Linked DNA regions of Homo sapiens: regions 1 and 2 are each linked to region 3. The links come from fine-mapping of genetic effects on gene expression. A gene starts in region 3. Each other region holds a variant in brackets. All regions are shown on one strand. Distances are from middle to middle.

Region 1 (8,187 bases), 660 kb before region 3:
ATATGTATACGTGTGCCATGTTGGTGTGCTGTACCCATTAACTCGTCATTTAGCATTAGGTATATCTCCTAATGCCATCCCTCCCCCCTCCCCCCACCCCACAACAGTCCCCGGTGTGTGATGTTCCCCTTCCTGTGTCCATGTGTTCTCATTGTTCAATTCCCACCTATGAGTGAGAACATGCAGTGTTTGGTTTTTTTGTCCTTGTTATAGTTTGCTGAGAAATGATGGTTTCCAGCTTCATCCATGTCCCTGCAAAGGACATGAACTCATCATTTTTTATGACTGCATAATATTCCATGGTATATATGTGCCACATTTTCTTAATCCAGCATATAAACAGAACCAAAGACAAAAACCACATGATTATCTCAATAGATGCAGAAAAGGCCTTTGACAAAATTCAGCAACCCTTCATGCTAAAAACTCTCAATAAATTAGGTATTGATGGGATGTATCTCAGAATCATAAGAGCTACCTATGACAAACCCACAGCCAATATCATACTGAATGGACAAAAACTGGAAGCATTCCCTTTGAAAACTGGCACAAGACAGGGATGCCCTCTCTCACTACTCCTATTCAACATAGCGTTGGAAGTTCTGGCCAGGGCAATCAGGCAGGAGAAGGGAATAAAGGGCATTCAATTAGGAAAAGAGGAAGTCAAATTGTCCCTGTTTGCAGATGACATGATTGTATATCTAGAAAACCCCATTGTCTCAGCCCAAAATCTCCTTAAGCTGATAAGCAACTTCAGCAAATTCTCAGGATACAAAATCAATGTGCAAAAATCACAAGCATTCTTATACACCAATAACAGACAAACAGAGAGCCAAATCATGACTGAACTCCCATTCACAATTGCTTCAAAGAGAATAAAATACCTAGGAATCCAACTTGCAAGGGATGTGAAGGACCTCTTCAAGGAGAACTACAAACCACTGCTCAATGAAATAAAAGAGGATACAAACAAATGGAAGAACATTCCATGCTCATGGGTAGGAAGAAACAGTTTCGTGAAAATGGCCATACTGCCCAAGGTAATTTATAGATTCAATGCCATCCCCATCAAGCTACCAATGACTTTCTTCACAGAATTGGAAAAAACTACTTTAAAGTTCATATGGAACCAAAAAAGAGCCCGCATCGCCAAGTCAATCCTAAGCCAAAAGAACAAAGCTGGAGGCGTCACGCTACCTGACTTCAAACTACACTACAAGGCTACAGTAACCAAAACAGCATGGTACTGGTACCAAAACAGAGAGATAGACCAATGGAACAGAACAGAGCCCTCAGAAATAATGCCGCATATCTACAACTATCTGATCTTTGACAAACCTGATAAAGAAATGGGGAAAGGATTCCCTATTTAATAAATGGTGCTGGGAAAACTGGCTAGCCATATGTAGAAAGCTGAAACTGGATCCCTTCCTTACACCTTATACAAAAATTAATTCAAGATGGATTAAAGACTTACACGTTAGACCTAAAACCATAAAAACCCTAGAAGAAAACCTAGGCATATCCATTCAGGACATAGGCATGGGCAAGGACTTCATGTCTAAAACACCAAAAGCAATGGCAACAAAAGCCAGAATTGACAAATGGGATCTAATGAAACTAAAGAGCTTCTGCACAGCAAAAGAAACCACCATCAGAGTGAACAGGCAAACTACAGAGTGGGAGAAAATTTTTGCAACCTACTCATCTGACAAAGGGCTAATATCCAGAATCTACAATGAACTCCAACAAATTTACAAGAAAAAAACAAACAACCCCATCACCAAGTGGGGAAAGGATATGAACAGACACTTCTCAAAAGAAGACATTTATGCCATCAAGAAATATATGAAAAAAAGCTCATCATCACTTGTCATTAGAGAAATGCAAATCAAAACCACAGTGAGATACCATCTCACACCAGTTAGAATGGCAATCATTAAAAAGTCAGGAAACAACAGGTGCTGGAGAGGATGTGGAGAAATAGGAACACTTTTACACTGTTGGTGGGACTGTAAACTAGTTCAACCATTGTGGAAGTCGGTGTGGTGATTCCTCAGGGATCTAGAACTAGAAATACCATTTGACCCAGTCATCCCATTACTGGGTATATACCCAAAGGACTATAAATCATGCTGCTATAAAGACACATGCACACGTATGTTTATCGCGGCACTATTCACAATAGCAAAGACTTGGAACCAACCCAAATGTCCAACAATGAAAATTATATTTCTATGACATATAATTTTTTAGTTAACATTAATGTCATTTTAAAAATACTGAAACACCTTTAAATGATCGTAAATTATTTCATTGACCATGAATGTAAAGAATTAATCACTTGTCATTGATTAGGTAATAAAATACTTTTAATTCTTATGTTCTTTGTATAACCCATAAAGCAATTATTAACTGTTAATGTAATTATTTCTGTGACATCTTAAAATAAGCAGCTATTTTATTTTCCTCTGAATTGTTAACTACAAGGAGTCCTTTAAACGTTTTAAATAAACTTTACAGGCCATTTTTTGAGTTCTGAAATCAGAATTTAGATAGTGTACTTTTCTGATTTCTCAATTCATAAAATCATTATGACATCTGATCTTGGGTTATTTTTAATACTTTATATATTGCTTATACTCATACATATATATGCCTCATTTTGAATCAAGAGAAGGCATTCTTTAACAGAGAGTATATTATCAATATTAGCAGTAGTCATCAAAATAAACAATTTAGAATTCTGTCAAACATTTTGCTATGGTTAGATTTCAGTAGTTTCATTTTCCTTGCCTTCTTAAAAGAGGGCTTTCAATATAAGATATTGTGAGATCTTATAAACAGTATTGTAGCTCATTTTATTTTTAATGTTAAAATCTATATCAGGATTTAAAAGTATACCCATGAAAAGGTTTTTTTTAAAATTAAAAACAGATTATTAAGATTTTAGCTAAGTTATTCTTAAAAATTATTTTAAAATCTTTTTAGGGGATATATTCTTTAGTTTACGTACTCTCAACAATCTATTGATGTTTGCTTCAGCAATTGATAGTTTAATTGATAAGAACACAGGAAAATAAACGAAGAAACTTGGGAATTGCTTTAGTTTTTTTTTTTTTTTTTTTTTACATCATTGGGAAACCAAATTACTTTTGGAACCACATGTGTTATATAATAGTCGGGAAATTCAAAAATTGGTTATTTTATGTTATAGCACCGTATAATTTAGCCCTTTTTAATAAAAAAGTTCCCCCTTATTAAGCAAGTTAGGCACTGATGGATTAAAAGATGTTAAATTATATGTAATTGGTTCATTCTATGCAATGTTTAAATTCTTAAACAGTGTATCATTTGCAGTATTAAAAATACTGAGATGAATTTGATTTTATATTTGCTTGATGATTAAATTATACCTTTTAGCATTTAGGGTTTCTTTTGTTTTTTGATTTTTTTAAAATTCTTTTCTAGCCTGACAAAGGATCCCATGAAAAAGATGGTGTTGGGATTGCTCTAAAATGGGAATCAGGCAGTTTTCTCAGGATTTAGGAGATAAAGTTATTAGGCTTTATTTTACTTTCTGCCACTGAGATTTTGATAGTTGAGTTAGATAAATGACATTAGAAATCACCAAGGAATAAGGTAGAGAAATAAGAAAATGGATCTGGTGTTGAAACTGAAGTAAAAAGAAAGGATGAGGAAAGGTTTTCTCTCTAAAAAGCTTTTGCATTGTACCTAAAGGCACTATTTTAATCACAATGAAAGCCATTTTTCTTTTGCGATTTGGATAATATTTCAAAACTAGTCTGTATGCTGTACATTCCTTTCATCAAAATGTGTGTGATTTTATACCCTTGAACTCTGAGCTAGCCCATAAAGATGAAGAAATGAGTAAGATATGATCCATCCATGCTTTTTCTTGGGAGAGTGAAACAAGCAAGCCTATGATTCCATAATACATTTGTAAGATATTATTTTTCTCAAATGTATTTCTTTTCCATGCACATACAAAAAAGCAGCTCCTTAGAATCATGATTAAGTAGTTGCTTTAGAAAGTGTATGTGTGAGGCGGGTGGATCACGAGGTCGGGAGTTCGAGACCAGCCTGACACGGTGAAACCCTGTCTCTACTAAAAATACAAAAATTAGCTGAGCGTGGCGGTGCGCACCTGTAATCCCAGCTACTCAGGAGTCTGAGGCAGGAGAATCGCTTGAACCTGGGTTGCGGAGGTTGCAGTGAGCCGAGATCATGCCATTGTACTCCAGCCTGGGTGACAGAGC[G/A]AGACTCCGACTCAAAGAAAAAAAAAAAAAGATAAGTGTATGTGTGTCTGTCTTCCCGCAGCAACCTATTTTTTCTTTTTTGGCTTCCTTAAAGCTCATGATTTTGTTATTTCTTCCATTTATTTATTGATTAGCTGTTGAACATCTGTGTTCTAGATCTTGGAGATACAAGTTGAGTAAGGCGAGTAAGGCAAGATTTTTGCCTTCTAAAAGCTGACATTCAGGCATGGATGTGTAAACAAATAAGCACAGTATAGTAAAGTATAATTGGTAGTAATTCGGTAGATGCATTTGTGGATCCATGTTGAGGGCATCAAAGAGTAGATGGTTACATCTGCCTGGGGGATTCAGTTAGTCTTCAGAAAAGAGTTGCTGCCTGAGTCTAGTCTTGAACAATTATATATTCTCTCTGAGGATAAAAAAGTGAAATACATCCCAGGCAGAGAGCAGCATGAGGAAAGGCAGGACTATAAAACAGTAAGATATATTTAGAATAATTAGAGTATAATGTAGGAGTGTAGTGAGAAATGAGGGTAGAAGTGAGGAGGTGGGCTAAATCCTGAAGAACCTTGTATATTATGTTTGGACTTTACCCTGACAACAAGGAACCAAGGAAGGGTTTGATTTTGCAGAAGGACATTTCCAGATTCAAAATTTTTATAATGCAATAGTCCCCCTTTCATTCATGGTTTTGCTTTCTGTGGTTTTAGTTACCAGTGGTCAACCATGGCCCAAAAATATTAAATGGAAAATTCCAGAAAAAAAAATTCATAAGTTTTAAATTGCATGTGATTCTGAGTAGCATGATGAAATCTTGTGCCATCCTGCCTGGAATGTGATTCATCCTTTTGTCTAGCATATCCACACTGTATATGCTTCCTTCTCATTGGTCATTGACATCCTCAGCTCCTGACTTTCAACCGTTGACATTGTCATGGCTCCTTCTGACATAGCTTAACACTATGTCACAGTAGCTATGTCATTCACCTCATTTCATCTGATCCTGTAGGCATTTTATCATTTCACACCATCACAAGAAGGGGGAGTTCAGTACTGTGAGTTGAAGAAACACACTCAATGTGTTTTTCCTCTGCTCTCACACCACAGCAACAATCAACACGGAATACTTGTGTGATCAGTTGTGTGGGGTTTTTCCCCGCACACCAAGCAAGCAATTAATTCTTCAGCAGACACTGGCTGGGTGTTCTTCAATTCAATTCTGACACTATCTACCTGGAGATAGTGTCAGATCCCATAGATTGAGGGTTCAGTCCCACAAGACTGCCACCTCTTGAGATACCAGTTGCAAGTTCAGGCCTCTGGAACTTCTGTTCCTACCCACTTCAAGTTGGGTTCCTATGACTCCCCCTTTGGGTTTGATTAATTTGCTGGAGTGGCTCACAGAACTCAGGGAAGCACTTATACTTACCAATTTATTATTAAAGGGTATTACAAGGAACATAGATAAGAATGCATGGGGCAAGTTATAGGGGAAGGGGCATAGAGCATCCATGCCTTTCCAGGACATACCACTTTCCAGGAACCTCCATGTGTTTACCTCTCTGGAAGCTCTCCAGACCCATCCTTATGAGTGTTTAGGGAGGCTTCATTACATAGACATGATTGAATAAACCTTTGGCTATTGGTGTCAACTTAACATTCAGCCTGTCTCAGCTCCCTGGATGTTAGGGGGATGGGGCTGAAAGTTCCAACCCTCTAATCATGCATTTGTCTTTCAGGTGACCAGCCCCAATCCTACAAAAAAGCAATGCTTTAGATATTCTAAGGAATTTAGAAGTTGTATCCCAGAAAATTGGGTGGAAAGCCAACCAAATAAATATTTCATAATATTACAAGTACAATTAGATGTTTTGAGAGAGCGAGAGGTCATATTCATGCAACTTTTGTTATAGTATATTATTATAATTTTCTATTATTAGTTATTGGGTTATCCTCTTACTGTGTCTAATTTATAAGTTAAATGTTACAGGTATGAATAGGAAAAAACATAGTATATATAGGCTCAGTACTATTTGTGGTTTCAGGCATCCACTGGAGGTCTTGGAATGTATCCTCCATGGATTGGAGGGGATCTGCTCTATTCTTAAAGCAGTGGTGTGGGATGGATTGAATTGGTGGGAGTGGTGGTGTAGATGGAATGACAAGGAGAAAATATAAGACTGGAGGAAGAAAGTCTAGTCTGTCAACCTAAGATAATTGAAAGAATCAGAATCCAGTTTAAAGAGTTTATTCAAGCAAAAAGCTGGGAATAGCCATTCAGGAGATGCAGACTTCAGAGAAATGGGGTCAGTGCTCTGAAGTTAAAAGTTAAGGTTTTGCTTATGATGGCGGCAGCAGCCCGTATGTAGCAGCTGCTGCAAAGATGCTGGCTGCAACGGGGGAGGAGCGGTCAGGGCTGGGAACAGGTGGGAGCCCTGCGCTCTACCAAGTTGGTGGGGTGGGAGCCCTGTGCTACTGGGCACAACTGCAGCCACCCAGCCACGGGCTGTGGTCCTGGCCATCCCCGTGCTCTTGGGGGCCTGGGAAATCTCTTTGCCCCCACAGGCTTGGAAGTGCCTGCTCCCACTCCCTGGTCTCTCCCCGATCCCGGCACCTGTTCCAGGGCAGAGCAAAGTTGTGGCTAAGCCCGGGTGGTGTCACAAGCTGGCCAGGTGTGTGTGTGCTCAAGGCAGTACTGACACACCAACCCCTGCCACCTTGACCCCCTCCAGACTTTGGGTGCCTATGAGCATGGGAGGAAAATGGAAGTGAGGCTGAGGGAAGCTCGGCTCAGGCCTGAAGGCATCTCTCAGCATGAACAGCCTGGGTGCCATGGACAGCATGTTGATGGTGACAGGAGGCAGACAGGCTCCTGAGTGGAAAAGGGTGGGTCCCAAGTGAAACCCCATCTTTAAGCCAGGGAAGGCCTGTAGCCTGGGGGCTGGGCTCTCAGTTCTGTGGACCACAGTGAGAACTTATGGTGTCTTTTCCAAGCCCACCCATGGCCGCCTATGGACCAATCAGCATGCTCTTCCTCCCTTCTGAGCCCATAAAAACTTCAGACTCAGCCAGATTCACACAGACATTGGGACTACTAGCTGCAGGAAGGAGCTACCCACTTTGGGTCTCCTCAACTCATTGGGACAACCTCCCTATGGAGAAGAGCTACCCACTCCTGGTCTCTTCTCTGCTGAGAGCTGGACACTCATTGGGATGATCTGCCTGTGAAAAGGGACTACCCGCTTCCGGTGTCCTGAGAGCTGTTCTGTCGCTCAGTGATGCTCCTCTTCACATGCTTCATTCTTCCCAGACGTGGGACAAGAACTCGGGACCTGCTGAATGGCAGGACTGGAAGAGCTATAACACAGAGCTGAAACATGATCCTCACTTGCCACATTGCAGGCAATGAGAAGAAGAGAAGAGAGAAGGTGAAAATAGCTGTGGCCTTTGGAGATCCCAGACCTAGGAGCTTCCTAAGCCATTGCTGTGACACTCTCTTTGGGGCTCTGCAGTTCCTGGTGTCTACAAGCTTCTGGGCACCACAGTGTTCCCTGGTTCCTGTGGTGGAAGCCACTTGTGGTATACCTAGTCCAGCCGCAGCCTCTCAGGGAGCCAACACCTGTGCCAGCACCTGGAGCTCCCTGCCCCACTGCAGCCAGCATGCTTGGCTATGCACAGTGGCCAGACCCTGTGCTTGCTTACACACCCCTTGCCACTCCGTGCCTGGCTCACCCTTGGCAGGTGTGGGATCCAGGCTGGTAGTATGAGCTGCGCAGCCTGCCAGGCTGAGTGAGCGGAACAAGCCCAGTGGCCCTGAGCAAAACTCTGGCACAGGTGCCACTGGCCACAGAGGTTTCCAGCTGGAAAAGTGACACACCCTAAGGACCCTGTGATACTTACATAGGAG
Region 2 (8,187 bases), 180 kb before region 3:
CCTCTATCAAGGAATGATACATTTCCTCTTTTAAAGGAAATAAATCATTGGAATTTCAGCCTCAAGACCCCTCTTTCTAATCAGTGTTTACCCATTTTAACATTTCTTGATTCATTTCCTTTTACACCATGTGCAAAACTAGCAGGCTTTGGATGTAATTGTATGGTTATGAAAATCTGGATTAATTAATACCAGTGCATACTTTTGTAACTAAATGATTTAGAAATCACTGTCATATACACCACCTGATTTCATCCTTACGTTCTATTGTACACTACACAGTACATATGCATCCAAGGTGCAGAGGCGTTTACAGAGTTAACTCCCCCAGGATTCTTTATTTTTTTATTTTTTATTTTTATTTTGAGACACGCCCTCACTTTGTCATCCAGGCTGGAGTGCAGTGACATGATCACGGCTCTCTGCAAACTTGACCTCCTGGGCTCAAGTGATCACCCCACGTCAGCTTCCTGAGTAGCAGGGACTATAGGCATGCACCATAACTATGCCCTGCTAATTTTTTAACTTTTTGTAGGAATGTAGTCTCCCTATGTTGCCTAGGCTGGTCTCAAACTTCTGGGCTCAAGCAATCCTCCTGCCTTGAACTCCCAAAGTACTGGGATTGCAGACATGAGTCACCATGTTCGCTTCTCCAAGATTCTTAAGCTTAGTAAGTGGCAGAGACAAGTTCTCTATGGAAGACATTCTGCTGCTTCTGCTTTGGTTAGGCTTAAGTGAAGTAATATGCATACATTTGCATTGTAAATTATAAAGTGATGCACAAATGTTAATCTTTGTTACCAGTTACAAGACACTAGAATGTGTTTCTTATTTTGGTGATCTTAATATCAGTCTGTATTAATATTTTGAATTCATGTTTTAGCTTTGCCAATTTTAGAAGAACAGATTGCTGCTGAAACCGAATCAGGAGTTATGGTAAACAAACCTAAATTTCAAAGTAACTATGATTACAAAAAAAGCTCTGTATCATAGATATATTATACAGTAATGTACAATATCTATGCTTGTCCTTAGTTGCAATCAATGTTGATCAGCGGTCAAAGCATTCCAGATGAACTTGTCATAAAGCTAATGTTGGAGAAGCTCAACTCCCCAGAAGTCTGTCACTTTGGTATGTTTATTTTAATATATTTACAGCCCACAAAGCAGCCTTAAAACTCATGCTTTATCTGAGGCAAAAATAGTTTCTGGAGTTGCCCTTTCTTTTGCCTTAGCATAAGAATCTCATTATCTCTATTCAGTTGAACAGCTCAGATGGTTTTATTTGCTTGTTTTTATTTCTCAGATTGTACATTTGTTTTAAAAATAAGTTTATATGACCCAATCTTCTTTAACATTGTGTTATCCAGTAAAAGCATCAGAAATCTGCTGTGGTCCATCTTGCAGTACTGCTAACTCTGCTGACTGCTTCCTCATACACCTTGGGTTATATTGCTAAGTCCTGACAATGGCTAGGGTTGTCTGCATTAATCCACACTTAGAAGGCGGGAGTGGGAAGTGGAATGCCACTATCTTACTGTTGAGCTCCAGATATTGTCAGGCTTCAGCCTGTTCTTCCAGTCTGCCCTCTGACTCTGGACCTGAAACCTCTCCTGGTACTCAAATGGATGCTGAGCAAGGGCTTTGGATCTAATTTTTCAAGACAAAGACCACTGAAGCTCAAAATGATTAAAAAGAAAAGAGCAAACTCTAATACCTCTGCAAAAGAAGAGGAGAAGAATAATGACAAGTTTGGGATAAAATCATCCACCTGAAATGGATTTACTGAATGAAAAAAGAAAAATTAAGAAAGTTGTTTTATATTCTTAGTAAGTTAGAAGAAGACATTGTAACTATTAATGCAGGAATAAAAATACAGGAAAGTAAAAACCATAACTGCCAAAGCAAATCAATGATGGAAGCAGCAAACGCAGCCTTGTCAAACTGTATTTACTGGTTTCTATCTATAGACAAAAAGATTCCTTTTCATATAGCTCATGTGTATAGAGAGATGATACATAGAATGTCCCATATCCACATATGTAGACAGGTCTCTATATGGATATATGGGTTTTTATATATAATACATATATAGAGATTAATATATATGGATTATAAATACATTATAAGTAGATAAGGTTTCTCTGTAAACTATCTACCTATCTATCCACTTATTACCTATTTGTTCAGCAGTGATAAAGAGACTGAACGGCAAAATATCCAGAATATGGAAGGCTGGATAAGTAAAAAGGCAAACAGGAATCACAGAATTCCAAATTACGTCAATAAATGACCTCAGAAAACATAGTATTTGAAACAGATATGTATATAGGTAGGTAAGTAAATACCTATTTGTTAACCTCACTTACCTCTTGAAAAACTTAAATTGGTTTACATGGCTACAAAAAAGATGACATAAATTATAAGTATTGGCAAAAGGAGAAAGAAAAAAAAACAACACGAAGAAACTCAGTTGTGCCTCTCATGGTGTTCATAATGTTTTACAGTTGTTATTAGGAAATAGTTCAAACAAAAGTAGGGAGATTAGTATAAAGATGCTTCCACATTACCACTCAGGTTCAGCATATGTCCAAAACCAACTCTAGTCTAATCTCGTTTCATCTACACTTCTACTTACTCCCTTCTCTCAACCTATGTTATTTTGAAGCTAATCCATATCATATCAGTTCATCTGTATAATGTTCCATTTATATCTCTAAAAGAAAAGGACACTTAAACCTATTACACATTACCATTATCACACCTAAAAAATTAATTGTTATTCCTTGATATCATCTACTAGATTTCATTAATTACCTCATAGATATTTTTTAGTTGATTTTTTTTGAAGCAGGATCTAACCAGGTTTCACATAGTACAAGTGATTAGTATGTCTCAAGTCTCTTTATATATAAGTTTCCCCTACTTCTTTCTATCTTATTGTTTCTTCTCTGATGAAGAAAACAGGTCATTTGTCTTGTAGAGTTTCCCACATTCTGGATTTGGCTGATTGCATTCCTCAGACCCCAGTACTTCCTGTATGCCGATACTTGTCCTAGGAGCTGGCAGAGGAAAAGTGATATAAATGGTTTCCTGAGTCTGGGGGCCACACCCTCACCATTTGGTTACAAGGCCACGTTCTAGGCATGCACAAACGAGCTCATTTAAAGGTTGCAGTGGAGATGGAACCTAAAGCGCCTTCTGCCCAGCCACCCCTTAACCCATCCTGTAGCATCCCACAGGAATTGTTTTAGAACCTAGCACTCGGCTAAATACAGTTTGAAAATCTTTGCCCAAATTCCCAGCAAGGCGTCTCATCCTGATGTTTGCTCTCAACCCGTAGCCTGGTAGAAGGTAGAAGCAAAATTGGAAGTGAAGGGTTTTCAAAACAGGGATATAAACTTGATTAGGTCAATAGATGCAGAAAAGGCCTTTGACAAAATTCAACAGCCCTTCATGCTAAAAACTCTCAATAAATTAGGTATAGATGGGATGTATCTAATCATAATTAAGCTATTTATGACAAACCCACAGCCAATATCATACTGAATGGGCAAAAACTGGAAGCATTCCTTTTGAAAACTGGCACAAGACAGGGATGCCCTCTCTCACCACTCCTATTCAACATAGTGTTGGAAGTTCTGGCCAGGGCAGTCAGGCAGGAGAAAGAAATAAAGGGTATTCA[A/G]TTCGGAAAAGAGGAAGTCAAATTGTCCCTGTTTGCAGATGACATGATTGTATACCTAGAAAACCCCATCGTCTCAGCCCAAAATCTCCTCAAGCTGATAAGCAACTTCAGCAAAGTCTCAGGATACAAAATCAATGTGCAAAAATCACAAGCATTCTTATACACCAATAACAAACAGCCAAATCATGAGTGAACTCCCATTCACAATTGCTTCGAAGAGAATAAAATACCTAGGAATCCAACTTACAAGGGATGTGAAGGACCTCTTCAAGGAGAACTACAAACCACTGCTCAATGAAATAAAAGAGGACACAAACAAATGGAAGAACATTCCATGCTCATGGATAGGAAGAATCAATGTCGTGAAAATGGCCATACTGCCCAAGGTAATTTATAGATTCAATGCCATCCCCATCAAGCTACCAATGACTTTTCACAGAATTGGAAAAAACTACTTTAAAGTTCATATGGAACCAAAAAAGAGCTGGCATCGCCAAGGCAATCCTAAGCCAAAAGAACAAAGCTGGAGGCGTCACGCTACCTGACTTCAAACTATACTACAAGGCTACAGTAACCAAAACAGTGTGGTACTGGTACCAAAACAGAGATATAGACCAATGGAACAGAACAGAGGCCTCAGAAATAATGCCGCAGATCTACAACTATCTGATCTTTGACAAATCTGACAAAAACAAGCAATGGGGAAAGGATTCCCTATTTAATAAATGGTGCTGGGAAAACTGGCTAGCCATATGTAGAAAGCTGAAACTGGATCCCTTCCTTACACCTCATACAAAAATTAATTCAAGATGGATTAAAGACTTAAATGTTAGACCTACAACCATAAAAACCCTAGAAGAAAACCTAGGCAATACCATTCAGGACAGAGGCATGGGCAAGGACTTCATGTCTAAAATACCAAAAGCAATGGCAACAAAAGTCAAAATTGACAAATGAAATCTAATTAAACTAAAGAGCTTTTGCCCAGCAAAAGAAACTACCATCAGAGTGAACAGGCAACCTACAGAATGGGAGAAAATTTTTGCAACCTACTCATCTGACAATGGGCCAATATCCAGAATCTACAAAGAACTCAAACAAATTTACAAGAAAAAAAAAACCCCATCAAAAAGTGGGCAAAGGATATGAACAGACACTTCTCAAAAGAAGACATTTCTGCAGCCAACAGACACATGAAAAAATGCTCATCATCACTGGCCGTCCAAGAAATGCAAATCAAAACCACAATGAGATATCATCTCACACCAGTTAGAATGGCAATCATTAAAAAGTCAGGAAACAACAGGTGCTGGAGAGGATGTGGCGAAATAGGAACACTTTTACATTGTTGGTGGGACTGTAAACTAGTTCAACCATTGTGGAAGACTGTGGCGATTCCTCAGGGATCTAGAACTAGAAATATCATTTGACCCAGCCATCCCATTACTGGGTATATAGCCAAAGGAATATAAATCATGCTGTTATAAGGACACATGCACACATATGCTTATTGTGGCACTACTCACAATAGCAAAGACTTGGAACCAACCCAGATGTCCAACGATGATAGACTGGATTAAGAAAATGTGGCACATATACATCATGCAATACTATGCAGCCATAAAAAATGATGAGTTCATGTCCTTTGTAGGTACATGGATGAAGCTGGAAACCATCATTCTCAGCAAACTATCGCAAGGACAAAAAACCAAACACCGCATGTTCTCACTCATAGGTGGGAATTGAACAATGAGAACACTTGGACACAGGAAGGGGAACATCACACACTGGAGCCTGTTGTGGGATGGGGGGAGAGGGGAGGGAAAGGATTAGGAGATATAGCTAATGTAAATGACGAGTTAATGGGTGCAGCACACCAACATGGCACACATATACATACGTAACAAACCTGCACATTGTGCACATGTACCCTAGAACTTAAAGTATGATTAAAAATAAATAAAATAAAACAAAAGAAAAAATAATTAAGCAAATGACAACTAAAATAGTAACTTCAAAATGAGATTAATGGAATAAAATAACAAAGAGAATTAAAAAAAAAAACAACTTGAGTGGGGGGCTGGGTGAGGATGGATAATTGATGACTCCAAAATCCCTGAAGAGATATGTGCACTTCCAGGGACATCACACGGCAGAGTATTGCCAAATTCATCTTAATTTTGTTTTATACTAGAGCCCTTTTAATAATTGGTGTTTCCATCACTATTTTAAAAGGGCCTACACGATCTATAATTATCTTTTCATTCACAATCTATTGTGTTGTTTTGGCCCTTAGCCAAAATCAGCTTCTCGGAGCTATATCCTTACCCAAGAGAAACAGATAGAGTCAATATGTGGCATCCTAAAAGCTCCTCACTGCTCCCTGCTTCTAGATTCTGGAAAATCTCGTTTTCCCCAGTGAATGAATAGCCCCAGTCTGGGCATTCCCTGCCCCGAGTATATCTTTATGAATAGTCTTGCAAGTCATTGGTCACCAATGTGTCCACTCATATCAGCCTGGTCTGAGGTCAGATGGGTAGAAGAGATGGCTGGACACAAGGCTACATCAGCCTGGCCAGAGGTCAGATGGGTAGCAGGGATGGCTGAACACAAAGCTACCTGATATCTCTGAATCTGTCATCACTTCAATCTGAAAGCAGTAGTCTGCCATCTTCATTTGTATGGAAATAGAAAATGCCTTCTTCCCACTGTGCCAAGAAATGGTGGCAAAGTGATGGTATGGGCCTGAGACAAGTCAGTTTCCTCTGGGCAGTGGTCTGGACAGTCTTACAGTTTCTCATTGGTTGAGCTAATGAGAACTGGGCAATGGCCTACAAAGCACCTAGTCTGCCTATGATAGAACATGCAAAGTCTCCCAGCAAGGACTGGCTTGGGGTGCGCCACTCCTCCATCGTTAGCATGGAAGGGCAAGGGCTTGGTAATGGTCTCAAGGACATGTGGGGTGGGAGCGAGGAGTTCCTCATCTGTGCTTTCATCCTCACATGTCTCTGGAATTGGAAAGGTTGACACTGGGCTCAGTAGTTCTGGTCTGTTTAACAAGCAGTGTGTCCCTGGGATCTTCCAGAATTGGGACTAGAGGACTAATCTATTCCACTTTACATCTGCAATGGTGAGACAAACTTAGATGACATAATTGTCTATCCCACACCTCCTCCCATAGATACACCCCTAGGCTCTGGAATGATAATACTAGACATCTCTCAGAGGGTAGAGCCCCACAATTCATAGCTCAGAACATTCAGGCAGCCCAAACAATGGCCTTTCAAGAGAGAGCTAGATCCATGGAAATTACTTATTCTTCTGCCATTTCCATCAGTAAAGAGACCAAGTATGAACATCATTCCAATATACATGTACACCAGAAGTTCAGCATTCCTGCAAACAGTTGCACGTGGAATGCCTGACAAGCTCTCCAGGCAGTGGCAGTGGCAGTGGCTGTAGGAACAGGAAGGTTTTGGCAAGCACAGCAAACAGTGCCAAGCATCTTTCTGTGATCCACTTACGATACACAGATGTTGGGAAGTATTACCAGCATAGGGAATGGCAGGGAGATACTGTTGCTTTTGCTTACAAGGCAAGGGCAAGGACTCTGGAGATAGATGGTCTCTGGAACTGTCTAACTTGGAGGAGTTAGCTTGCCAAGGTCTGAGTTCCATCCAGAGCTAGGCATGCAGTCCCGTTCAGTGTAGTACCTACCATCACAATGTGTCAGACCAGGAGTTAATGCCAGCCATCGTGTCCCAGAGGAGATACTGGTCAAAGTCTTAAAAACCAGTTCAAACATGTTGTTAATCAAGTGGAAGCTAGACTCACAAGAGCAAAGATGCCAAACCAAATGAGGGTGGTGTGGAGCCAGAAAAGCAGAAAGAGAACAACAAGAAGAGGCAGGTAGAGAAAGGTCTGGCCCATTTCTTGAGACAGTGCAGGCAGTGTCTACATTTTTTTAGGGATGTACTGAGCTAATTTAATGAACCTCCAATAGGATAGATGCCTTGGGGATACCACGCTATGTTTAAGACAATAGCAGGAGCATGTAAGTAAGTCAAGTTGGACACTAAGGATCATAGCAAGACAAGAGGGAATCATACCTACAGTTCATATATCTAAAACCAAGATGACAAGGTCATCCTTTCTGCCTTTTTAAGTTAAATTAGGTAGGATTGCTTCTCTGGATAGAGCCCAACACACTGTTAGCAGAAAGTAAAGTGATCAAAAAAGCTTAGGAGACATTGTGTATGCCTAAGCATTTAATTAGGTTTTGAATTAGCATGATGGTTCTTGGTCTTCTTCTTCTTTATTTTTTTTGAGACGGAGTCTCGCTCTGTTGCCCAGGCTGGAGTGCAGTGGTGCGATCTCGGCTAACTGCAACCTCTGCCTCCAGGGTTCAAGCGATTCTCCTGCCTCAGCCTCCCGAGTAGCTGGGATTACAGGCACCCGCCACTATGCTTGGCTAATTTTTGTATTTTTTTTTTTTAGTAGAG
Region 3 (8,187 bases):
GGACTATAGTTCCTTCCAGCCACAGTTATCAACCAACCATCCCAGGCTACACACATATTTTTGATGCCCTTCATCATGACAAAGGACTTCCACTAACCTTTAATTGCCAGATGATCATGACCTTCTCCTTCCTCCAATCTGCCAGATTCTCCATTGACTCAATACAACTGGAAGCTAGCCGGCACAGGACTTTGATGATGAAGTCCTTGAGTCCCTGTAGCCTCCCAGGGCCAAAAAAAAAAAAAAAAAAAGGAGAGAAGAATGGAGACTACATTTGGAGAGGAAAGAGAAAAAATCTGGATCGCCTTTTATCAATATTCACTCTGTAACTGATCTTACTTACAACAATTTATAATCTATGCTCTGATAACTCCATTATTAATATCTCAATTCTGTTCTCAGCTCTGAACTCCAGATTGTTACCTATGACTGCCTACTGTACTTGGTTATCTAGTTAACATTTCAAATTTAATATGTCCACCCCATACTTGTTATCCAACCCAACTTCTCTTCTTCCAGATCAGTTAATGGTAACACCGTACACTCTGTTGATTTAGCCCCAAACCCAGGAGTCAATCTTGATTGCATTGTTTCCGTCACTCCGCACATCTATTCTCAGCAAGTCCTCTCAGAAAGACCTATCCCCCAAATCTACCTTGAATATGGGCTCTTCTTACATTTTACACTGCTGTCACCCTCATATCCATGCCTCCACTCATGTCCCTCCAGGATCTACTCTTCATCTAGCAGCTGGAGTAATTTTTAAATACATAAGTCAGATTCAACAGTCCTTTTGAATAATCTTCCAGTGGCCTCCTATTTCAGTTAAAATCGAAACTCCTTTTTCTTGGCATAAAAGACTTTACATGATCTGGCTCTTCTTGCCTTTAACATTCTCTCCATCCTTCTCTTTCTCTCTCTCTTTTTTTTTATTATTTTTTTTTATTTTTTATTTTTGGAGACAGAGCCTTGCTCTGTCGCCCAGCCTGGAGTGCAGTGGCATGATCTCAACTGACTGCAACCTCCGCCTCCCGGGTTCAAGAGATTCTCGTGCCTCATCTTCCTAAGTAGCTGTGCCACCACGCCCGGCTAATTTTTGTATTTTTAGTAGAGACGGGGTTTTGCCATGTTGGCCATGCTGGTCTTGAACTCCTGGCCTCAAGTGATCCGCCCACCTTGGCCTCCCAAAGTGCTGGGATTACAGGCATGAGCCACTGCACCCGACCTGGCATTGACCAATAACTTTGAAATGCCATTATCTCCTCTACAGTGTTTGAAGTATGCACTCTATTTGTACCAATTAAGTGGCTGTCCCTTACTCTTTCACCATGTATATGTAAAGCCTCAAGGTAATCAATAGCTGTACCCTTAAAACACTGGAATACTGATAACCAGCTTCCCATCTTAAATGGTATTTTCATTCAATATTTTAGATCTACTCTATTTGTTTACTCTCCGAATTAGACATTATTTTGCATAATCAATGTTTGTTTAGATTTCCTTCATACTTACTTTTTTCTCTTTTTTTTTTTTTTTTTGGCTTACAACTCCCTCTTATACCTCAGACTTTCCTCTTGGTGTTATTTTCCTTCCTATGGTATGGGTTTGTTGGAGGTTAATACTTTTATTTTTTGTTTGACCAAAATTGTCTTGATTTTGTCCTTTTCCATGATAATTGTAGTCTATAAAAAAGATTTTAGGTGAATTTTGAAAGTATCATGCCACTAACCTCTGGCTTCTACTATTGCTGTTGAGAAACCAGCTGTCATTTTAACTGGTTTTCTTTTATAGGTACAGTCATGCATTGCTTAATGACAGGGATATGTTCTGAGAAATGCATCACTAGGTGACTTCGTCACTGTGCAAACATCACAGAGTGAACTTACACAAACCTAGATGGTATAGTCTACTACACACCTAGGCTCTATGGTACAACCTATTGCTCCTGTGCTACCAACCTGTACAGAATGTTATTGTACTGAATACTGTAAGCAGCTGTAGCACAGTGGTATTTCTGTATCTAAACATATCAAAACATAAGAAAGACACTTAAAATACAGTATACTGATGGCTCATGCCTGTTATCCTAGCACTTTGGAAGGCCTAGGTGGGCAGAGCACTTGAGCCCAGGAGTTCAAGACCAGCCTGGGCCACATGGCAAAACCTCATCACTACAAAAAATACGGAAAAAAAAAAATAGTGGAGTGTGGTAGCATATGTCTGCAGTCCCAACTACTCAGAAGGCTAAGTGGGGAGGATCACCTGAGACCAGGAGGTAGAAGTCACAGTGAGCTGAGATCATGTCACTGCACTCCAGCCTAGGCAACAGGGTGGGATTTTGTCTCAAAACAAAACAGTATAAAAGAAAAAAAAAGTACACCTGTGTAGGGCACTTACCATGAATGGAGCTTACAGGAATAGGAGTTGCTCTGGGTGAGTCAGTGAGTGAGTGGTGAGTGAATGTGAAGGCCTAAGACATGGCTATACACTACTGTAGACGTTATAAACATTGTACGCTCTAAGCTACACTAAATTTATATGAAAAAAAATTCTTTGTTGGCTGGGTATAGGTGGCTCATGCCTGTAATCCCAGCATGGGAGGCTGAGGCAGCATTTATTTTTTTAAATGGGTGTCCTGTGTCTTTATTTGTGAAATCTGGCAACTCTCCACTCCATCTGCTGCCCCTCACTCACTGTGCTCCAGCCACACAGTCCTTGCCGTTCATCAGATGCTCCTTCCCAGTCTGAGCCTTTATGCTTGCTTTTCCCTTGCCTAGAACATTTTTATTCCAGATCTTCCCACAGCTGTCTCCATGTCATTCAGATCTCAGCTCAAATGTCACCCTATCCTGATTTCACTTCCCTGTCAGTCTCCATCATCATTCTTTATAAAATTTAACACTTTCTGAAACTATTATTCATTAGTTTACTTGTATATTTGTCCTGTCTCCCCTTAGTAGAATGTAAGCTTCATGAGAGCAAAGGCCTTGTTAGTTGCTGTATCCCCAACACCTGACGCCAATGTCTGGCTCTTAGTAGACACTCGATAAATATCTGTTAGATGAATGTATGACACCCCAAATCCTGTTCTGCAAGATTTAAATTTAAGAAGACCTGTTAGGGGTAGACCGGCTGGCCTTAACAAGAACAAAAGTTTTGAAAAAGTCAGTATGGATCCAAAACAAAATTGCCTTGAAGAAAGGGCTAGTCTGTGTTGTGGGTGGCTGATGCTGGAAGATCCTCCAGACTCAGTCTTTCCTCGCAGGATTATGCTCCAGTGAGCAATGATTGAATGAGGAAATGGAAGTACCTGGCTTACCTTGGCACTGAGTCTTCTTATGCCGTTGAGGACCTCTGGAGGGACAGTGATTTGACTGCAACCCTCGTAGCAGCAAGAAACAATGAGGTAGCTAACTTCCTGCTGGTATGCAGAAGTCAGGGAGCGCTCCCCATCCCACTTGTACCCCCACAAATCCAGAGGACTTAGAGACAATTCAATATGAAAGGGAAACCTCAGAGAAGGAGCATGTGTGGCTTGAGCTAGTTTTAATAAAATCTAGTAAAAATGTAAGAGCCAGGTTGCTAATTACACCTCCGGTTCAAGATCAGGGAGGCTATAGATGGCATGTTGGGAATCTGGAAATGGGCAGAAAAATAAGTAATTAGGTATTGGCTAAGAGAGAGAAAATGCTGAAATAAATGGATGGAAGCAGGTGGGGAGTAGATCTGGATGGGGCTTGTAGACCACATTAAGAAGCCTGGACTTTATCCAGAGGGCATGTGGGAGCCACATGGATTCTAAGCCAAGGAGTGACTCTAGTCTCTGGATCTCATATGTACTTGGAGAAATCCTCTGTACTTCTGCGAATTAAAGAGAACAACGCTGCAGCTGAGACCAGTTAGAAACAGTCTATTGAACAAAGATGATGAAAGTTTGAATAATAATGATCATTTTAATCACAGCAGACGAATTAAACCAGGCATTTCCTAAGCCCATTACATACTTAATTTTGTTTATGCAATAGCAACCCTACCAAAGTGGCACTAGTGTTAACATCTCCATTTTACAGGTAAGGTAAAGAAGTTGTGAGGGTAAGTAATTTGCCCAAGATCTCTCAGAACCCAGGTTTCTCTGACTGCAGTGCTCTCTTCATTCCCTTAGACTAAGGCATCAGGAGTGGGGAGGAAAAGGAGGCAGATGTGAAAAACATTTAGGAGGTAAGTAATAGTTATTATATTAGCACTAGATAATGACGATGGTGATGATGATGACAATGATGATGACGGTAAGGGGGATTTCATGCCTTTATACATTCAAGAACAACACCAGATTCGGTGTCGGAGAAGAGATAAAATTAAGGTATTGGCGTTGAGCTAACAGTTTAATACGATATAAAACTTCCCAAAGGGAGGGGTCACAACGCCTCTCCTGTCCATTGCCCCCAATTCACCGCAAAAGTCGCTCCTGCCTGGGCTCCCCGGCAGTGCCACACGCAGGACCTCGGGCGCCGACACCGCCCCGCCCCTGGCCGCGCCCCGCCCCGGCCACTGTCCCTCCTCCGAAGCCGCGCCCCTCCCCGCCCTGCCCCGGCCCCGGCCCCGGCCCCGGCCCCAAAGCCCCGGGCCTGCCATCTCGCCCCGCCCTGCCCCGCCCCGCCGCGGCTCCCCCGACCCCAGGCCTGCATTCTCGCCCCGCCTTGCCCCTCCCCTCCCCTGCCACGCCCCAACCCTTGAACTGCCTTCGCGCCCCGCCTTGCCCTGCCTTGCCCCGCCTTGCCCCGCCCCGCCCCGCCCCGCCATCTCGCCCCGCCCCGCCCCTCACCTCCCTTCCCCTCCCCGCCGCTCTCGTGGCCCCCACCTCCAGGGGCGCCTCTGCGGGCCACGTGGTTCGGCGTCCGCGCGCAAGCGGCTCTTGGCGCCGCGCTTCCGGGTTGGCTGTGGCTGTGGCTGCGGCGGCGGCGCAGGAGCAGAAACCGGTGCGGCGCAGAAGCCCCAGAGGCGGGCGGGGCGGAGCGGAGGGCCAGCGGGCCCCGGCGTGGGTCTCCCGCCAGGCCGCCGGGTGAGTTGGCAGCGACCCGGACCCCACCGGGCGCCCCTGAGCGGTAGGTCTGCCGCGCCGACCCCTCCCCCGCCGTGTGCTCCCCAGTCGGGCCCGCGGGGCCTGGGCGGGGAGGTGGGGGTCTTTCCGCGCCACCTCTCCCTGCTGGGACCACCCGGGGCTGCGGGGGGCTCCGCGCCGCCCCTAGTGTGTCTGGCGGCCCCACGCAGCTTAAGTTATTAGTATTTTATTGCAGCTACCTCACATTCACTTTGCACGTGCACATTTCTTCACTCTTCACATTGGTTCCCACATACGAAATGGCTAATAATCTGGGAGATGGAGGCAGCTTCGTTCTCCCTGAAATAGTTGTGCAACCATAGAAAGTTCGTGCTTGCGGAGGATTTTGGAGATGGTTAATCCCATTCCTTCATTTTATAGAAGGTAGACCCTGAACCGTTCCATGAATACTGGAGAGTCACTCAGCTAGTTAATGTGCGGCAGGAGGCTGAGGGAGAGAATTGCTTGAACCTGGGAGGCGGAGGTTGCAGTGAGCCGAGATTGCGCCACTGCACTCCAGCCTGGGCGATAGAGCGAGACTCCGTCTCAAAAAAAAAAAACCGCGAGCTAAGTTGTTTTGTTTTTGTTTTTTGAGGTGGTGGTCTCGTTCTGTCGCCCAGGCTGGAGTGCAGTGGCACGATCACGGCTCACGGCAACCTCGAACTCCCAGGCTCAGGTGATGCTCCTGCCGCAGCCTCCTGAGTAGCTGGGACCACAGGCGGGCGCCACCACGCCAGGCTAATTTTTGTATTTTTTGTATAGATGAATTCTCTCCATGTTGCCCAGGCTGGTCTCAAGTGATCCGTCGGCCTCGGCCTCCCAAAGTGCTGGGATTACAGGCGTGAGGCCACTGCGCCCGGGCCCAGAGCTAAGTTTGTAGACAGACAAAAATGGTAATGGTAAAATTCAGTTAATGATGTGAAGTGAATAGGAAGTTCATGTGGGCTGGCATTAACCTTTTAGACAGTGCTTTCTCCTTTTTAAACCTTGTTTTCTTATTTCAGATTTAACCCTTAGTGGCTTCTGAAGAAAATGGCAGAAACATCGCCAGAGCCTTCTGGGCAGCTTGTTGTACACTCAGACGCTCACAGTGACACTGTGCTGGCCAGTTTTGAGGATCAGAGGAAGAAAGGCTTCCTCTGTGACATTACTTTAATCGTGGAGAATGTACATTTCCGGGCCCACAAAGCCTTACTTGCTGCCAGTAGTGAATACTTCTCAATGATGTTTGCAGAAGAGGGGGAAATCGGCCAATCCATTTATATGCTGGAAGGCATGGTTGCAGACACCTTTGGTATCCTGCTGGAATTTATCTACACAGGTTATCTCCATGCCAGTGAGAAAAGTACAGAACAAATCCTGGCTACTGCTCAGTTCTTAAAAGTCTATGACCTGGTAAAGGCTTACACAGACTTCCAAAATAATCATAGCTCCCCAAAGCCAACAACTTTGAACACTGCTGGTGCCCCAGTGGTTGTTATCTCTAATAAGAAAAACGATCCTCCAAAGCGGAAACGGGGAAGACCAAAAAAAGTCAATACATTGCAGGAGGAGAAATCAGAACTGGCTGCAGAGGAAGAAATACAGTTAAGAGTGAACAATTCAGTTCAGAATAGACAAAACTTTGTGGTTAAAGGAGACAGTGGTGTACTGAATGAGCAAATTGCAGCAAAAGAAAAGGAAGAATCGGAGCCTACTTGTGAGCCAAGTAGAGAGGAGGAAATGCCAGTTGAAAAAGATGAGAACTATGATCCCAAGACCGAGGATGGCCAGGCAAGCCAGAGTCGATACAGCAAGCGGAGGATTTGGAGATCCGTCAAACTTAAAGATTACAAACTTGTTGGGGATCAAGAGGACCATGGTTCAGCCAAGAGGATCTGTGGAAGGAGAAAGCGCCCTGGAGGCCCTGAGGCCCGCTGTAAAGACTGTGGCAAGGTCTTTAAGTACAATCACTTTTTAGCAATCCACCAGAGGAGCCACACAGGTAATGATGTTTTCAAAGCTGATTGCAGTGTGTTGCAGAATTGGGAGTAGTGATGATAATAATAGCTTCCATTTACTGTGCAACTTCTGTGTGATGGGCATTGTAATAAAGCCTTTATACATGTTATTGCAGTTAATTTTCTCCACAATCCTGCAAGGTGGGTAATATCCTCATTATACATTGTATGATTAAAATCATATTTACTCATATGTAAGAGAGGGTTGCTAAAGTGCATAGTTTACAGATGAAGCAACCAAGTTCTAGGGAGCTTAAATAACTTGCCAGAGTCACCCGTTAGTGACAGAGCTGGGATTGAACCCAGGTAGCCTGGTTCAAGAACCCCTCTCATTTGTAGTTGTTGAATGAATCCTTTAATGTCCACTTATCAAGATCTAGCCCAATGTACCCTGCTTTCTGATTCTTGAACATTCTTCATCTTGACCATAACCATGCTTTTGCCCAAGTCTGTGTAGATCACTTTGTAACTCAGCTATCTAGCTTTAAATACCTTCTCATTTTTGGTCCCTCTAGCCCAGCGCTGACCAATGGGACCCTTCTGTGATGATGGAAATGTTCCTACATCTCTGATGTCCAATATGGTGGCCAGTAACCACATGTGGTTTTTGAGCACTTGAACTGTGGCTAGCGTGACTGAGAAACTGAATTTTAAATTTTATTTTAATTCATTTAAATTTGAATAACCACATGTGGCTAGTGGCTACCGTATTGGACACTGCAGTCCTAGTGAGAAATCCCTTCCTCCTTTGAGCCCTTTCAGGTGCTTAAAACCCACTCTGCTTTGGATCAGATTGTTGTTACCACTTGTATATCCCTCAACTTAATTGTAATCTTAAGTATAGGGACTGGGGCTTAAGTCTTCTCCTGTGATCCAGCAGTATCTGGTGCTGTGGTTCTCAGCCTGCAAATTGGAATCACTTAGGGAGCTTCTAAAACTACCAGTGCCTAGACCTCCACCCCAGAGCTTCTGATTTAGTTGTCTGGAGCCTTGGTGCTTTTAAAAGCTCCCTAAAGACTTTAGCTACAGATAGGTTGAAGAGCTTGAATTCAGGTACTTCGAACAAAGTGGATACTTGAGAAATATTTG

Direction of the effects. Alleles are on the strand shown, and positions count from the first base shown. SD is a standard deviation of normalised expression in the study named. Not every link is listed here.
As copies of A replace G in region 2, the expression in monocytes of the gene that starts at base 4,938 in region 3 goes down (moderate effect, 0.48 SD a copy in Quach 2016).

Evidence for each region.
Region 1: its variant is fine-mapped to the expression of ZBTB24 in hypothalamus (GTEx, PIP 0.95).
Region 2: its variant is fine-mapped to the expression of ZBTB24 in monocytes (Quach 2016, PIP 0.95).

Annotation. Positions count from the first base shown.
Region 1 is chr6:110,137,896-110,146,082 of GRCh38, reverse strand. The region is part of intron 3 of WASF1 (WASP family member 1); the gene reads left to right. Among named protein-coding and RNA genes, the nearest start is that of WASF1, 38 kb to the left of the region's middle. The variant G/A (reference allele first, on the strand shown) is at 4,281.
Region 2 is chr6:109,664,864-109,673,050 of GRCh38, reverse strand. AK9 (adenylate kinase 9) reads left to right here. Exons shown (of 41, transcript NM_001145128.3): 4 at 884-936; 5 at 1,036-1,132. Among named protein-coding and RNA genes, the nearest start is that of AK9, 22 kb to the left of the region's middle. The variant A/G (reference allele first, on the strand shown) is at 3,686.
Region 3 is chr6:109,479,970-109,488,156 of GRCh38, reverse strand. It overlaps ZBTB24 (zinc finger and BTB domain containing 24), which reads left to right and starts at 4,938. Exons shown (of 7, transcript NM_014797.3): 1 at 4,938-5,059; 2 at 6,103-7,082. The coding sequence starts at 6,131. ZBTB24-DT (ZBTB24 divergent transcript) reads right to left here and starts at 4,513. Exons shown (of 4, transcript NR_187591.1): 1 at 3,320-4,513; 2 at 98-221. RefSeq lists silencers at 4,438-4,877, 4,958-5,247 and an enhancer at 6,946-7,447.